2 separate regions of the Homo sapiens genome follow, and region 2 is linked to region 1. The links come from fine-mapping of genetic effects on gene expression. A gene starts in region 1. The other region holds a variant in brackets. All regions are shown on one strand. Distances are between the middles of the regions.

The links.
Region 2: its variant is fine-mapped to the expression of BLCAP in whole blood (INTERVAL, PIP above 0.99).

Annotation. Positions count from the first base shown.
Region 1 is chr20:37,523,564-37,531,894 of GRCh38, forward strand. It overlaps BLCAP (BLCAP apoptosis inducing factor), which reads right to left and starts at 4,313. Exons shown (of 2, transcript NM_006698.4): 1 at 4,230-4,313. It overlaps NNAT (neuronatin), which reads left to right. Exons shown (of 3, transcript NM_005386.4): 3 at 1-127. It also overlaps the pseudogene PPIAP3. RefSeq lists enhancers at 2,681-3,399, 4,117-4,834, 4,156-4,205, 4,296-4,605.
Region 2 is chr20:37,490,006-37,498,336 of GRCh38, forward strand. No RefSeq gene overlaps it. Among named protein-coding and RNA genes, the nearest start is that of NNAT, 27 kb to the right of the region's middle. The variant C/T (reference allele first, on the strand shown) is at 3,865.

The sequences.
Region 1 (8,331 bases):
TGTGTCTCCCCAGCTAGATTGTAAGCTCCTGGAGGACAGGGACCACCTCTACAAAAAATAAAAAAAGTACCTCCCCTGTCTCGCACAGTGTCCCAGGACCCTGCGGTGCAGTAGAGGCGCACCAAAACTTTGTCTCTTGTGATTTCTTTAGCGGCATCAACATACACTTCTAAGACTCAGCTGATGTGCCCACTGTGGAACAGGCACACTGCTTGGGGGAGGGAGGAAAAGGAGGGCCATCAAAATTGCAATAAGCTGGGCCCCTCACACACCCAACCCCATCTCAATGCTGTCCTGTGATAAAGGACCATCTCCCCCTCTCCCCAAAGAGAAAGGCTGACATCTTCACTTGTGGTCCTGGAATAAGGGACCACTTCCCCCTCCCCAAAGGGATAGGTGCTTTACTTGTGGTCTTAGGATAAGGGGCCAAAGCAAGTATCACTTTGGGAAAGATGAGAGGAGGGGAAAAAGGTGGGAGTAGCCCTCCAAAGAGGTACTAGGGACCAAGGGGGTGATTTCAGAACACAAAGCCTTACTTCAGGTCTCCATCCAGGAGCCCCAAAGAAATGAGTAGTGGGCAGGGTGGACAGTGGCTTAGACAATGAGTATGGGATAAGAGGTGCAGCGTGGCGCCTTCTTCACCCAGCTTAATGCTGCAGGCCCCACATCCACCAGGACCACTACAAAGACAATCTGCCTGGCCTTGCTACTCTGCAGGGTCTCCTGGCCCCACCTCACCCCAGAAACCTCTCTCCCCAATACTGGGTTTCTGCTTTTCCCAGCACCAGCCTCCGTATTCTTAGGAATGCTTACCAGGTCCGTGGCCCTGGGCTCTCCCCTGCCATCACGTCAGGGTGGGCAGTGCTCGGCCTCGGACTTGTCTTCCTCTCCCACTCCCCAGTGAGTCAGGGCTCTTTCTACACGGGGTCAGCTGACTGTCTCACCAAATGGCCCTGCCGCCTGTTCAGCCTTGTCTCTGGCTTTATGTGTCCCTGTCACTACACACCTGTTGCTGGGTCAACACCAAGGGAGGGAGTTGGAGGGCCATAAATCTCTCTTCCTGCCACTTCTTCGAATCCCTTAGTCACAGCTGTCACAAATACTTCTGAAGCACAAAGTACCTTGCCCCCTTAAGCCTGATCATGTTTCCCTCCCCTAAGCAAGCCCTTAAGTTTCTTAGCCCAATCACCAGCACCTCTAAAGGCATCTAAAACTTCATTCGGTATCAGAGAATTATAGGGGTGGGGAGGTGCAGATCCCGGTTCTGGTCTTGACTTTGCCATCAATCAGCCTAGGGAACCTGGACATGTCACCTTGTACCCTTCATCTCCAGTTTCCCTCTCGAAGAGGGCCTTTGAGATGCCAGTGAACCCTAACACGCTAGAAACTGCCATAGCAGTGGCAATCAGGACTCATCAGGACTTGAAGAGGATGTGCAATCTGAGACTTCATCTTTCTTAGGCTGGGTGGCTATAGCTGCTACCATAGCCTGAAGGTGAGGCAGGTCTCCTCTCGCCCCAGTGTGACTCATCAGCAGGCAATGCCCACACCTCCTCCCTTCTGAACCCCATATCTTGGCAGGCCTCAAAACTGGGAGTTTCTGTGGTTTTCCACACTAAACCCACAGAATCATGAACATACCAACATGTGTTCTCCATGAAGGCTGACCCTCCCTTCGGAGCTTTTGAGGGGTATGCCCATAGCCCCACTGCCCTTCTTGATGCTCTAACCTCAGCCCAAGTGACAAGGTAGCAGATTTCAGGGAGGTAGGCCAAAGCAGCATGGTAAGAGCTGGCTGCTCTGGACACAGCACCTCTTGTGCCCCCACTTAGAGGACAAGAGGCTCCTGGTAGCCCCAGAGCTTTCCATATCATCTTGGCAAAGCCCTTTTCCTCCATCCGTCCATCAGCAGGGCTGTGAGTGTGGCAAGGTGAGATGACAGATTTCCAGGCAAGGGCTGCCCTGGTGGCCTGCACCTGCACGTGTGGGCTTCAATGTGCAATGTCCACTCCCCATTTGCATCCTCCACCCACAAAACTTCATGTTCTGGCAGCAAACTTAACCCACCAGAGAAGACAGTGCATTCACTTTCCATCCAGTGCAATGCCATGCAATGCCTAGATGGTCCAAACACACCTTGTTTATAAAATTTTTTCCACAAACTATACCATTAAACATTTTATTCTGATAGAGAGCAATGCGAAGAATTGAAAATGACTAGTGTTTTACTGCACAGCCCTTAGTCACAGTGCTGAACGTCCCCTTTGCCTAAACCATCATTGCTCCCAGAAGACTTTGCCCCCACAAGGCCAAGGACAGAGCAGATCGGTTGGGAAGGAATTGGGAATAGCTCTGTGGGACTCCAGCAACAGGTGAGAGACCCTTGAGACTAATACTCCAGGATGTTAGTTTCTTAGCCTAACGAACTGAAGTTAAGTCCAGAGGTGTTTAGGTACCATGACTTTTAGGGGTGCAGGGTGCTATGTGACACTGTTACCTTTATCTGTGGAATATTTGAATTGTCACTGAAGGAAGGGATGTCTGCTGTCAGGGAAGGGCAGGGGCAAGTTCCTTGAGCTTGGGCAACGGATTACTGTTGGATCGGGGAGCAGGTTTGCTGTGAGCCATTTACTAGATATCTATTTTGAAATGTGTATCTCCTCAGGAGCCAACACCCCAAAGGGAGATTCTGAATTTGCAGTTAACTTCCCCCCCCCACCGCCCCCACCCCCCCTCAGAGATTTAAACGTGTGCACTCATGCACATACACAAAACACTAGTCAAACAACAATCTCTTTTCCCCCCGGTAACCTCTGACTTCCTCTATATGCCCCAGAGACACGTTGTCACCATCTTCCCTGGGAGTGATCCTGTTTATCCTCCCCTCCCCGACTTGCCCTCCCACAGGGCCCATGCATGCCCCAGCAGGATCCAGATTCCTGAGCATTTCCAGAGCAGGAAGTCAGAGAGGCAGGCAACGCGTGGTTCTTGGTATATCGCACAGGGACAGGCTTGAAATGGAATGCATGTGTTTCAAAGATAGGAGAACAACAACAAAAAAAGACAGTCTAACCCAGATTCCTCTTTGAAACAACATATTACAGATTAAAGGTTAAACTGTTTTTGGCAGCAACTCTAACAAGACTAATTTCAGATATGGAATTGACCTGGTCACTGGAAACCGACCAGGCTTCCCGTGATCAAATCTTTTAACAGATTTGCTTGACATTAATTAGTCTCTGATTTAAAACAAACAAGCAAACAAGATCTAACACTTGGCATTAGCACTTAAGCTGGAACTTTTTTTTGGTCCCAGCTTTGGTGTTGCCGTCCAGAAGGCTGACGGGATGACTGGACCATGTCAGGCAGGGCAGAGAAGCCGTCCCCAACACACCAGTTCCCTGAAAGGGATAGACGATCCAAACCTATAAACAGAAAGGCTGTTTCTTTCCGAGGACAGACCCCAGTCTCCCAACATTCGGCGATGAAATGGGACACGGAGGCCTGGAAGGAAACTAAAGGAGATTTGGAAAGGGGAAGGAAAAAACAACTGTCCCCCATCCCCCATGCTTCCTTTCCAGGCCATTAGTGCGCCAGGCATTCCGTTCCTTCAGCTGCCCTTGAGGGCCACTCCCCACGTCTATAGAAGGAAAGGGAAGGGATGTCCACCCTTGATGTAAAGTTGGAGGGAGTAAGAAGCGCCCGCGACTCTTAGCAGAGCGTCAGCCTATCACCCCAGACACCGAAGCGGAGCCTCAGGAGACCCTCTCTCCCCTCACCCCCACGTCCCCCCACCTCCCCCCCAAAAAAGCAACTAAAGCAACGCAACTAAACTGATGGGGACAGAATGACAGGCCTCTCACAAGCTGGGCACCCTGCCGTGGAACCCGGGGCTGCAGAGATGGTGGTCGCGCTCCCAGCCCCGTGCCCCCGGCTCTGCCTGTCTCATCCTGCAAGGGCGCTGACCTTGGACAAGGCCAGAGCCAGCACCCAGGAGTACTATGACCCACCTCCGGGCTGGGAAGGGACCCCCCAAGGCCCAGGCTAGGTCCAATCACGGCAATCACCTGAAGCCGGACAGGGGCGCCCTGCCTTCCCGGGGTATGCGGAAGGAAAACCCCAGTGACGGGGACCCGGCGACGCCTAAGGTGACCCAGAAGGGACAATATGGCGGCGCGGCCGCATGGAGGGCCTCTCATCCCGCCCCAAGCAGGTTGACGCCACGGTACCTGCAAGCCCTGCCATGGCGCCGCCGCCACTGTCGCCGTCTGCCGCAGCCTGCCTCCACCTCAGCTCGCCACCGACGCCGCAGGAAGCCGGGGAGACGCCCCCTTAGTCTTCTAGTCGAGCCGGCCGAGGACCCATCCTGGGATCGGGCTGTCTACCGCAAACGCCTGATCACAAGGTCCGAAGTGGGGGCTCATCCTCGCCCCATTTCCCGTAAATATCAGCCACAGACCACCTTTGAGGACTTTGTATGCACTTTTACAAAACTCTGGGAGCCCCGAGATCTTCAAGCCCGAATAATTTTTATCAGGCGCAGTGTGGACAGCCCCGAAGCGCGGCCGGGTCCCCTCATGCATATGCAGCAGATTGTGATCCTTACTCCGTGAGCGCTGGGCGGGCCGGGTTGTGTTCATGTTGGTGAACCCGCTTCGTTCTTGCCCGCGTGGATGGTCCGTGGACTCCGGGAAAACCTTCTCGTGGCTCAAAGTCCACCCCCTCCCTAGCGTTTCATCATGCAGCCAAGGCTCAGGAGCTGAAAGGTCCGGGCTCAGAACTTGGGACTGCCTTGGGTCAGGCCTCGGCTCCCCCACTTGCCCCGTACCTTGGGCCAGCGAGCCCCTCGCCCACCCCGACCCGGCTTCTGTTGAAATGCCCACCTTAGGGCTTTTATGAGGCTTGAATGAGTCCGTGTAGTCATTTATTAGCTAATTAAGCATATTCCTTGGGCGCTTACTGTACCCAAGCGCAGTGCTAAGGGCAGGTAGAGTCGGTAACCTGGGTCTGTCCCTGACCTCAAGGCACTGCCAGTCTAATGGCGGGTAGGCGGGGAGACAGTCATATAATCACTGTATATTAGTGACTTTAATCAATACATAATTACACATCATGGGAAGTGCTGTGAGAAGAAGTAGAGAGTGTTAGGAGAAATTAATGGAGTACTAATGTAGGGAAAGGGTGGAACCTCCTTGGGAAGATGGCATTTAGGTTGAGAAACAAAGGACGATTAGGGTAAGAGTGAGAGGGGAAATGTTCTAGGCAGAAAGAACATTTGTCCCAGATCTGGAGCTGGGAAGCGGCAGAGTTGGGGTGAGGTGAGCACAGAAGAAAACAGGTCAGCTACATACTGAATTTGGCTTTTCTCTTGAGAGTCAGGGAAGCCATTTTCATCAGGAAGAGGATAGCAAATTAGGATTTCTGAAAGGCCACCCAGGCCGCATGGCTTGGAAAGCACTCAGGAGTGGGTGTAGGCAGACCAGTTAGGAGGTGGTTGCAGCTTTCCAGACAAAAGCCAATGCTGACTCAGACAGGGTGGTAGCTTGGGGAGGTGAAGGGAAGGGTGGAAGATTGGACTTGGGTGGATGTGGAGGCATTGGCAATAACTCCTCGCTAGGTTTTAGCCTTGAGTAAATGAAAGGGTAAAAGATTCCTTGACCAAGACAATAAAGCCTGAAAGAGGAACGGACTGAGGGGGAAGATCAAGTTCGGCTTTGAGAAGTTAAGTTTGAAATGTCGGGGCAACATGCAGGCAGAGAGGGTGAGTAGGCAGGTTTATGTGACACAGAAGCTGCGAACGGAGGCTGGGGCAGGAGATACATATTTGGGGGCCATCAATACAAAGGTCATGGTGCTGGGTGAGAACGCAAGTGAAAGAAGGTGGAGAGAAAAGAAGAGGAGGATCCGGGAAAGGAGACTAAGAAGCAGTGGCCAGTGGGGTAGAAAGAGGACCAAGTGAGTGTGGGTCCTAGAGAGGAGGTTTCAGGAAGGAGGGAGTGCTCAGTGGGGCTGATGCTGTTGAGAACAGAAATGGAGCCGTTGGGGTTTGGGAATAAAGAAGGTTGGTGGACTGTATCTTTTATGTTGCAAGTTAAACACACAACTACATCAAGTGGCTTAAAAAAATAAGTAGCCTGCCACTCAGTGGCTAGGCAGTGTCATCAAGGACTGAGGTTCATTTTATCTTCTGTCCTTGTGCTGGTTTATGCTCATGGCCACAAGATGGCTATCCAGTTCCTGAGGTCACATCCAAAGCAAGGAGATGTCCATTTCTCCTCCAGCTGAGACTCAAAACAGGCCTGAATGTGGCCTCCCACCATCCTGCTGCTTACAGGCTAAAGGATCAATGCATCCATGGCAGCCACACCCAGTATCCAACACTGAATGACAAGAGGAGTCTTGTAGTGGAAGCTCTTGTTTAGAAAAAGAGAGAGCTGGCTTTGCAGATGCCGCTGGGATCCCCATACTATCAGCCATGGTCAGCCCCACCTTGTTCTTTGACATCACTGTCGATGACGCGCCCTTAGGCCCCTACTCCTTCGAGCTGTTTGCAGACAAGATTCCAAAGACAGCAGAAAACTTTCGTGCTGTGAGCACTGGAGAGAAAGGATTTGGTTAAAAGGTTTCCTGCTTTCACAGAATTATTCCAGGATTTATATGTCAGGGTGGTGACTTCACATGCCATAATGGCACTGGTGGCAAGTCCATCTGTGGGGAGAAATCTGATGATGAGAACTTCATCCTAAAGCATACAGGTCCTGGCATCTTGTCCGTGGTAAATGCTGGACCCAACACAAACGGTTCCCAGTTTGTCATCTGCACTGCCAAGACTGAGTGGTTGGATGGCAAGCATGTAGTCTTTGGCAAGGTGAAAGAAGAAAGAAGGCATGAAGATCGTGGAGGCCATGGAGCGCTTTGGGTCCAGGAATGGCAAGACCAGCAAGAAGATCACCATTGCTGACTGTAGACAACTCCAATAAGTTTGACTTGTGTTTTATCTTCACCACCAGACCATTCCTTCTGTAGCTCAGGAGAGCACCCTTCCACCCCATTTGCTCCCAGTATCCTAGAATCTTTGTGCTCTCGCTGCAGTTCCCTTTGGGTTTCATGTTTTCCTTGTTCCCTTCCATGCCCAGGTGGATTGCAGAGTTTATGATTATGAAATAAAAACTAACAAAAAAAGAAAAAGAGAGCTGAATGTTGAGAGGCTGTGGAGCAACAAATTCTTGCAGTGCTGACGGCAGAGCAAATTGGTACAGCCACTTTGGAAAACCAGCATCTACAAAATCTAAACATACACCTATGCTGTGATCTAGAATTTCCACTCCTAGGTATGTACCCGAGAGAAATGAGTGCCTATGTTTACATGGAGACTTGTGCAAGAATGTTCATAGCAGACTTATTCATAGCTCAAATTGGAAATAGTTCAATGTCCATCACTGGAGAATGGATAAATTGTGGCATGTTCATGCAATGGAATACTGTGTTTTACATATAAAAGAACAAACTACTGTTACATGTAATAGCACCAGTTAATCTCACATATAGTATGTGGACTAAAAGAAGCCAGATACAAAACAGTACATACCATATGAATCCATTCATATAAAGCTCAACTAATCTATAGGGTTAGAAATCAAAATGGTAGTTACCTGGGTCAGGTCAGGAGTAGGGATGGGAAAGGAGCAAGAGGAGCTTTTCTGGGATGCTGGAAGGATTATATCTTCTTCTGGCTGGTGATTATGTAAGTGAAAATTCATCAAGTAAAAATTCACCATAAGACTAGGGGACTTCGGGAGGCAGAGGCTGCAGTGAGCCAAGATCGTGCCACTGCTCTCCAGTCTGGGCGACAGAATGAGACCCTGTTTCGGGGGAAAAAGAAAGAAAGAAAGAAAAAAGACTGGGGGCTTTATATACTTTACGTATGTTATACCTCAAGAAAAATAGAAGAAAGGGGCTGGGTGTGGTGGCTCACGCCTGTAATCCCAACACTTTGGGAGGCCAAGGCAGGTGGATCATGAGATCGGGAATTTGAGACCAGCCTGGCCAACATGGTGAAACCCTGTCTCTACTAAAAATATAAAAATTAGCTGGGTGTGGTGGCACGCGCCTGTAATCCCAGCTACCCGGGAGGCTGAGGCAGGAGAATCACTTGAACCTGGGAGGTGGAGGTTGCAGTGAGCCAAGATGGCACCACTGCACTCCAGCCTGGGCGACAGAGCGAGATTCCATCTCAAAAACAGAAACAAGAAAAATGGAAGAAAGGAAGGGGTCCTGCCATCCCATGGAATGTGACATGCTGCTAAACAAGGATCAGGTCTGTTTTGCGGG
Region 2 (8,331 bases), 34 kb before region 1:
CTCCCAAAGTGCTGGGATTACTTACAGTCTTGAGCCACTGTGCCAGGCCCATTAAATGCTTTAATACCCCCAGTACACCCATTATAAAGTTGAAAACTTGTAAGTTGAACCATCATAAGTCAGGGACCCTCTATAGAAGCCAGAAGGCATGGAGTCTGGGTAGTATTAAGGTTGGCCTCCCAGGCACAGAACAGGATGGAGGATAGAGTATGGCTCTTGGAGGGGACAGCAAAGGCTATCCGGACCAGTCACCAAATGACCTCCTAGCTACTCATTTCAATGCACCCTTTTCCTTTCTTAACCACCCTACAGAATTTGATAATCAATTTTAACTTTTTCAGGATCAGAAAGTGCACCACAAAGGTCTTTTCCATGCTTTGCTCTCTTCCCTTGAGACATCTCCAATCAGACCCACTTGTTTCCTTTCAGCCGGGCTCAGAGGATAGATCCCAGCTCACTTACAAGTCTTTCTTCTTTTCATCCTCATCCTCTTTCAAGACCAGGAAATTCTAGGGTTTCTCCTGTTTTCAAAAACCCTCCCTTGATCGCTCACATTTTTCTTGCTACCATTCAACTCCTTCCCTAGTCATCCAACCTTCTCTAAGGAAGGTTCTGCCACTCCTCCACCTATTCAGTCCGTTGACCCTGGGGAAGCTAGCTTTTACCCCTTTGCCCCCAAAACAGTTCCTGCCAAGGTTCATAGGAGCCCCCGATTGCTGGATTCAAAGGACTTTCTGCTTCTTATTTTTCTGAGATTCGGGGCATCGAGCTGTGGTGATTACTTTCTCCCTGAAACTCTTCCCTATCTTGGTTGCTATGGCAACCTCCTCTCCTAGTTATTTGTCTCATTGCTCAGGTCCTTCCTTTTCCTCTCTCCTTTGTCACCCACCCACACCTCCGTCAGCCCCTCACATGTCTCCGGGACTCATGATGCTATGAGCTCTCTCCCATCTTCCCTCTACACTCTCCACCTCCCATCTTCCCTCTACACTCTCTGCCTGATGGTCTTGCTCATTCCTGGAGTCCCATTAACTTCTGTCCCCAGGTTGGTCCCTCCAGTCAGATTTCTTCCTGAGTCCCAGCTCTGGCATCCAGCTGTCTGCTAACCTCCTCCTGGCTGTACCCCCGGCCCCTCATCTCTACTTCTCTGAGACTGAGCCCATTCCCCCCACCCAAACTGGCTACCATGCTGTGTTCCCCATCTCAAGCACCTCCTCACCATCTGCCAAGGAACCCAAAGACACACGAGAATCACCCTTGGTTCTACCCTCTCTCTCACCCCAACAGCCAACAATCCTTATGCATTTCTGACTTTATTTTCTAAATTGGTCTCCCTGCCTAGAGACTATCTTCTTCCAAATATAGTCTTCACACTGACCATCTCAGTGGTCTTCCCAAATAACAAATCTGAATGCATCACTCTAGTGTAAAAACTTTCAACAGTGCCCAGTGACTGCAGGACAGTGTCCAAACTCCTTGACATGGGGGCATCCAAGGCTCTGCAGGGTCTGGTCTCTGTCCACTTCATCTTGCTCTTCCCATCCCCTCCTTCTTTTGTCATAGTCCAGGAACACCAAATACCCTCCAGCTCACTCCTGCTGCTCCTCATTCCCAAGGCTATGCTTGTGCTGTTCCCTCTGTTTAAAAGGTCTTTCCAGTTCCTTCTAGCTTGCTCATTCCTGCTCATCTCTAAGGAGATAAGTCACCCTAAGACCAATGGTCACCTCTTCTGGAAAGTTCTGTGCATATTTATGTTTCGTTACTGCACTTACCATACTGTACTATGATGGTCCATTTAAATGCTGTGTAGTAGGATCATATTTTATATATTATTTGATGTGCTTCCCCACCCCCCACCACACTTCCTTGCCCATCACCATGTTGGTGCACAACAAACTACACCAAACATTAGTGGCTTACAAACACAATTTATTGGCCAGGTGCAGTGGCTCACACCTGTAATCCCAGCACTTCGGGAGGCCGAGGCAGGCAAATTACTTGAGCTCAGGAGTTTGAGACCAGGCTGGACAATATGGGGAAGCCCCATCTCTATCAAAAATACAAAAATTAGCCAAGTGTAGTGGTGCACGCCTATAGTTGCAGCCACTTGGGAGGCTGAAGTGGGAGGATTGCCTGAGCTTAGGAGGTCCGACGCTGCATTGAGCCATGATTGTGCCACTGTACTCCGGCTAGATGACACAGAAAGACCCTGTCTCAAAAACAACAACAACAAAAACAAAAACAGTTTATTATTCCTCATGGTTCCGGGGTTGATAGGGCTCAGCAAGGTGGTTCTTGCTTAAGTGTTTCATGCAGCTGCAGTCAGATGGCAGCTGGGGCTGGAGTCATCTGCAGGCTCATTCACATAGTTGACAGTCAGCTGGGGGCTTGCTGAGACCGTTGACTGGAGTGACCACATGTGGATTTACCACAGGACCTGCACTTCTCATAGCATGGCAGCTGGCTTGTAGGAGGGAGTGTTCCAAGGCCAAGCATTGCAAGAGGCCTGGCAGAGGCCATAAGGCTTCCTGCGACCTAGTCTTACAAATCCCAGAATGTGCCTTCTGCTATATTCTATTGGCCAAGAAAGTCACTAAGGCCAGCCTAGATTCATGGGGAGGGAATTACACTTCTCTTCCTGATACAAGGAGTATGATATATATCGCAGGAAGGCAAGTATTGGTGGTGGCCATCTTTGGAGACTAGCTACCAAGGTCACTTTTTCCTGATTCAGTCAGAGCTTTGCAGGATTTGGGTTGTTGCAGCATGAATGCAGTGAGAAAGATGGTCAGTAGTTTCAAAGAGTCTCTTGAAACTTACAGCAGACAGGATGCTTTGTTGCAGTAGCCGGGCTTTTGTAAAGAGGAAAGAGCTTGAGGGACTGAGCACTTGAAATTGATGCCAGAATGGTAAACAGGGAAGAATACAGAAGCTGTTTTTCTGCCTAAAAGGAAATAAAAGTTTGACCAGCTAGTGGGAATAAAGGAATCACAAAGAGATGTAGCTCATAGTAGATACTAGAGCTCCCAGAGTAAATTTGAGGTATCCCAGAGCAGAAGGGACTGTTGCCTGGCTCCTCAGGTGTTGCCTGAGAGAACACAAGCTCCTGGCATGGGCTGGAGAGAGGCTGAGGACCCCTGGTGGGAGAAGGTGGCTGGGAGGTGTCCTCCAGGGTCCTGTTTGTCTTTGTAACACGGTGGTGATGGTGAGGGTGTAGAGAAGAGGGTGAGTGTAGCCGGTGGACTTGGAGGTGCCTCATGGTCAGGACAAAGATTTAGTAGGGATTCTGTGGCTCAGTGGATGGCAGTGGATAGTTGCTGGCAGACCTGAATCACTTGTATGCCCCTGGTGCCAGGTCAGAATAGAAGCTCCCAGAACACTGACTACCCACAAGGAGAAGGAGCAGTGGGAAGCAGAGGAGCTGGAAGTGGACCAAGAATCTACTTAAGATAGTCTTTTGAAATGTCCAGATGTGGCTGGGTTTACCTTCAACTAAGTTTGTGCTACTGAGCAGAATGGAGTGGCAGTGGTGTTGGGAAGAGTTAACCTGAGTAATGAAGCAACATTTTGGAGAGGCTCTGTTTGTAGGTTTCTGGGCTAGCACCTGGGGCCACCTTCAACCTTTCATTCTGTCTCATCTCTCCCGTGCACTTGGCACCATGCCCCCTATTTCTACCTCCAAAACTTCTCTTGCCTCCGCCTTCTCTCCATCTGCACTGTTGCTTAGCTCAGACCTGCGTTATTTCTCACCTGGACAACTGTGGTGCCTCTTAGGTACTTCCCTACCTCCAGGCTGTTGGGGCCTGATCAAACCCTTTTCTGCTGGCAGCCAGAGGGATGACCTCTGTTCTTTTTCTAGAACTG[C/T]GCCAATCCTTCTTGGAAATCATTCTGCACCCCAACCTATTTGCTTTGAAATTCACCTTCTCATTTATTGCACAACCCACTTTAATGGCCATCATTGATTTGCCAGAGGTGAACCCCAACTCAACTGGGCCAATGGAAGCTTTTGTCTAGATTTCTGGACTTGGGAACAGAGAGAGCTCATAACATGTATGGAGCACTTAGTGTCCATCCCCGAGGTAAGTACTTGATGGACATCATCTCCTTTGACCCTCACAGCATTAAGCTGGTGCTGTTGTTATCCCCATTTCCTATGTGAGGACACTGAAGACAGAGAAATTAGACAAAACAATGAGTAAGCAAGTAGCCCTGATGCTTAACCAAGTTCCTGCGCTCCTACCTCGATCTCTTTGTGGTCATGAACCTGAGAGGTGTGAAACATTGGCAGTCACGAACGCCAGTGTGTGGAAGAGGCATCCCTGAGAGAGGGAGCTGGCAGGCAAAGAGACGTGGAGACATGGAGATGGGAGAGGGGCAGGCTGCCAGTTAAGTCCCTGGCCCCGGGGGACCGGAAGGTCAACTGAACCTAGCTTGGCCTGTGGTTTGCGTATAGAAGCCAATTAAGTTCCTTCTGTGCCTGAGCTGGTTTCAGTTGAGCTTCTTCCACTGGCAAAGAAACTTAACTAAATGAAAGTGATCACACCTGTCTCCCTGCTTAAGAACAGCCACGGCCAGGCATGGTGGCTCACGCCTGTGATCCCAGCACTTTGAGAGGCCAAGATGGGCAGATCACCTGAGGTCAGGGGTTCGAGACCATCCTGGCCAACATGGTGAAATCCTGTCTGTACTAAAAATATAAAAATTAACTGGGCGTGGTGGCACACGCCTGTAATCCCATCTACTCGGGAGGCTGAGGCAGGAGAATCGCTGACCTGGGAGGCAGACATTGCAGTGAGCCGAGATCATGCCACTGCACTCCAGCCTGGGCAACAGAGTGAGACTCCGTCCATTAAAAAGCAAAACAAAAGAAAAAACGGCCACTGGTTCCTCATTACCCTTGGATAGAAGCTCACTTCTTGTCATGACACAGCAGCACTGCAGGTGCAGCCAGCCTGATCTGTCACTGATCTCCCTCCTGCCACACCCATGCCCCCAACCCTGTGTGTCTCAAATCGGCTGGACTCCCTGCAGTTCCCTTAAGAACCCAGGAAGGTTGCTGGCCCTCCAGGATCAGGTGAGGTGAGATCCACCCACAGCTTGCTCCTCATCCCCAGCTCTAACGCCCCTTGAATCCATCTAGGATTTCACCTGGGCAGTCTCACCAGCTGTGGGCCTTTCCTTTTCTGGAGTCAAAACTTAGCTTCTCTTATGTGTCAGCTCCTAAGAACATTTGACAACATCTTAGAAAACTGCAAAGTATCCAAATGTACCCAGAGGCAACCACTGTTCACATCTTGACACACTTGTTATCAGAATTGTTTGTTTTTAGGGACAGTGCCTGGTTCTGCTGACCAGGCTGGAATGCAGTGGCTATTCACAGGCACAATCACAGCGCACTGCAGCCTTGAGCTCCTGGGCTCAAGTGATCCTCCTGCCTCAGCCTCCCAGGTAGGTGGGAATACAGGTGCATGATGTGCCTGGCTTATCAGAATTTTTTTTTTTAATCCAAGAGAATAGAAGGGCTTTTGATGAAGAGCAGCAAGTTCGGGATGGACCCTCTCCCAACCCCAAACTCTTACCCGAGAGTGTGTGATCTCTGCTCCTGGAGGTTGTCTCCTAGCTGTAAGCTCTCAGCTTGTATTAGGAAGAATGCTTTCACCAGAACGTAATATATCACCTAAAAGTGGCTAAGCAACAAGAACATTTATTTCAAGTAATGAAAAGTTCAAAAGTCAGTGGTTCCAGGTATCTGAGATCTGAGTGAACAGAGAACCATGAGTCTCCTGGCCTTCCCCTCCTGGTCACAAGATAGATAGCTGTCAGGGCTCCAAGCACTATGTTTTCACTCAACAGCACCTAGGCAGAAAGAAAGGGGGCAGCCAAGAAACTTCTCCAAGTGCATCCCTCTTTTTCTTTTCTTTTTTCGAGACACGGTCTCACTCTGCCACCCAGGCTGGAGTAGAATGGCATGGTAGTAGCTCACTGAAGCCTCAACCTCCCAAGCTAAAGCAATCTCCTCACCTCAGCCTCTTGAGCAGCTGGGACCACAGGTGCATGCCACCACGCCTGGTTAACTTTTGTATTTTTTGTAGAGATGGGGCTTCACAATGTTGCCCAGGCTAGTCTCGAACTCCTAGGCTCAAGCAGTCTGCCCGCCTCAACCTCCCAAAGTGCTGGGACTACAAGGCGACAGCCACTGTGCCTGGCCCCACATGCATCTCTTTAATTAGGGAGGAAAGTGTTTCCCTGAAACTGCCTGAAGATATCCCCTTACAAGTCCCAAGTCAAAACTGGGTCATGGGAGCCCTCTAGACAGCATCTGCTACACCCCATTTCTAGTTCATAAGATCCACTGATGTCCCAGTGGATTAGGCATTGGGTCACTTGGAAACTACTCCCCTCTATCCCTACCTCTCCTAACACAGTCTTTAAGTACCTCTGTTGGTTATCTTTTTAAGAAACCTACTTGCCCCTTCATTCCTTATTCTACCACATGTCCACAGAAGCTCTTGCCTCCCCACTATTGTCCCTGTCAACCTTCCTACCCTCTTCCCTTCACTGCTACCTCCCAACTTTTATATCTTTACTTTCACATTGTGACAGATGATAATGTTGACATTCTATTCTGCAACCATAATAAAATTCAGGTCAATACAAAAGTTGAATATTAATGAAAACTAGAAAGATAACATTTTCATTATTTAAGTATACCATATATTTCCTCTGGGTATCTATATATGTAAGTTTTTAGAAACGTCTAGAAAAGTCCACATTGAGCCCATTACTGTGGTTACCTCTGGAGAGGAGGAAGGGAATAGGGTGGCAGTGGGTGGCCAAAAGGGACTCCAGCTTCATCTGCAATGTTCTCTTTTTTAAAAAAGGGGAACGTATTCATGTTTTGCTTGTGTCATTCGACTTCAATTTTTTAAAAAATTACTATTTATTTTCAGCCAATAACGTGGGCTCCGTGTGTTTGGATGTGCTTGCATGTTTGTGCCCAGGGAGGAGGAATATTTACTTTGTGTGTGCCTGTGAATGAAGTAGAGTGATTAGTAAGCAGATGAAAAAGAAATGTAGCAAGCAAAAGCAAAACAAAAAAGGGGGCTGGAGAAAACTAATTCACAACAATAATAAAAAGTATAGGAATAAACCCATTAGGAAATGGGCAAGTTCTTTATGGGGAGAACAACAGTGCATGAGTGAAGGACATACAAGATAATAAGAATAAACGTAGAGCTCTACTGTATTCATGAATTCAAAGGCTCGGTATTGTATTGATGTCAATTTCTCCAACTTGACAAGCTGGCTTTACAATTCATGTGGAGGAGTTAGTGTGCGGTACTAGTTAGCTAAGAGAGCTGAGAAGGAAGCACAACGAAACATGGCATTTGACTTCACAGATACCAAAAGGTGGGACAGCAAAGAAAACAGTCTTGTACTGAAAGGAATAAATGGATTGTTGGGAAAAACAGGGGCTTCAGACACACCTGACTCAGAATATCAGGGAGTTTTACTTCAGGTCAGAGGGGAAAGGAAGAACTAGTCAACCCCTCATACTGCAATAATTGGCTGCCCGTTTGGAGAAAGGTTAGATCATATATCAATATGATAATCAAAATATATTCCAGATGCATAAAGAACCAAATAAAAACAAAATTATAAAATTATTAGAAAAGAAGAAATAATATATTTAAATCTTAGGAGTAGGGAAGGACTAAACATGGTATCTGTATAAAAAAGGATCAAAGGAAAAGATTGATAAATTGGATTATGTCAAAACTAATAACTTCTAACAAAAGATTCTACAAAGAGTTAAAGGCAATGACAAGCTGGAAGAAAATATTTGTCACATATCTACAAAAGATCAATATCCAGATTATATTACAAAACTCCACAAGCCAGTGGGATAAAGACAACCTAATGCTTAAAATGAGAAAAAATAACAGGCAATTCAGAAAAGAGAAAATACAAATGCTCAATATACATATGAAAATCTCACAAGCAAACAGGAAAATACAAATTTTAAAAAGGATTCAATTTTTCACCCATGAGATTGGCAAATATTTAAAACAACCGCCTATGGGTGTGGGGATTACAGCCCTCTCATACCCTCTGGCTGGAAGCTTAAATGGTACAGAAATCATGGAGGACAGTGGTAGTATCTGCTAAAACTAAAACTGTGGACATATTAAGACCCAACATTCCATTTCCCAATCACTCCCAGAGATATCCCACCACAAAGGAACATGCAATGTGGTTTCTGCAGCACTGCTCATGATGGAGGAAAGAAAAAGAAGCAATTAAATGTCCATGGAGCTTACAGAAGATAAA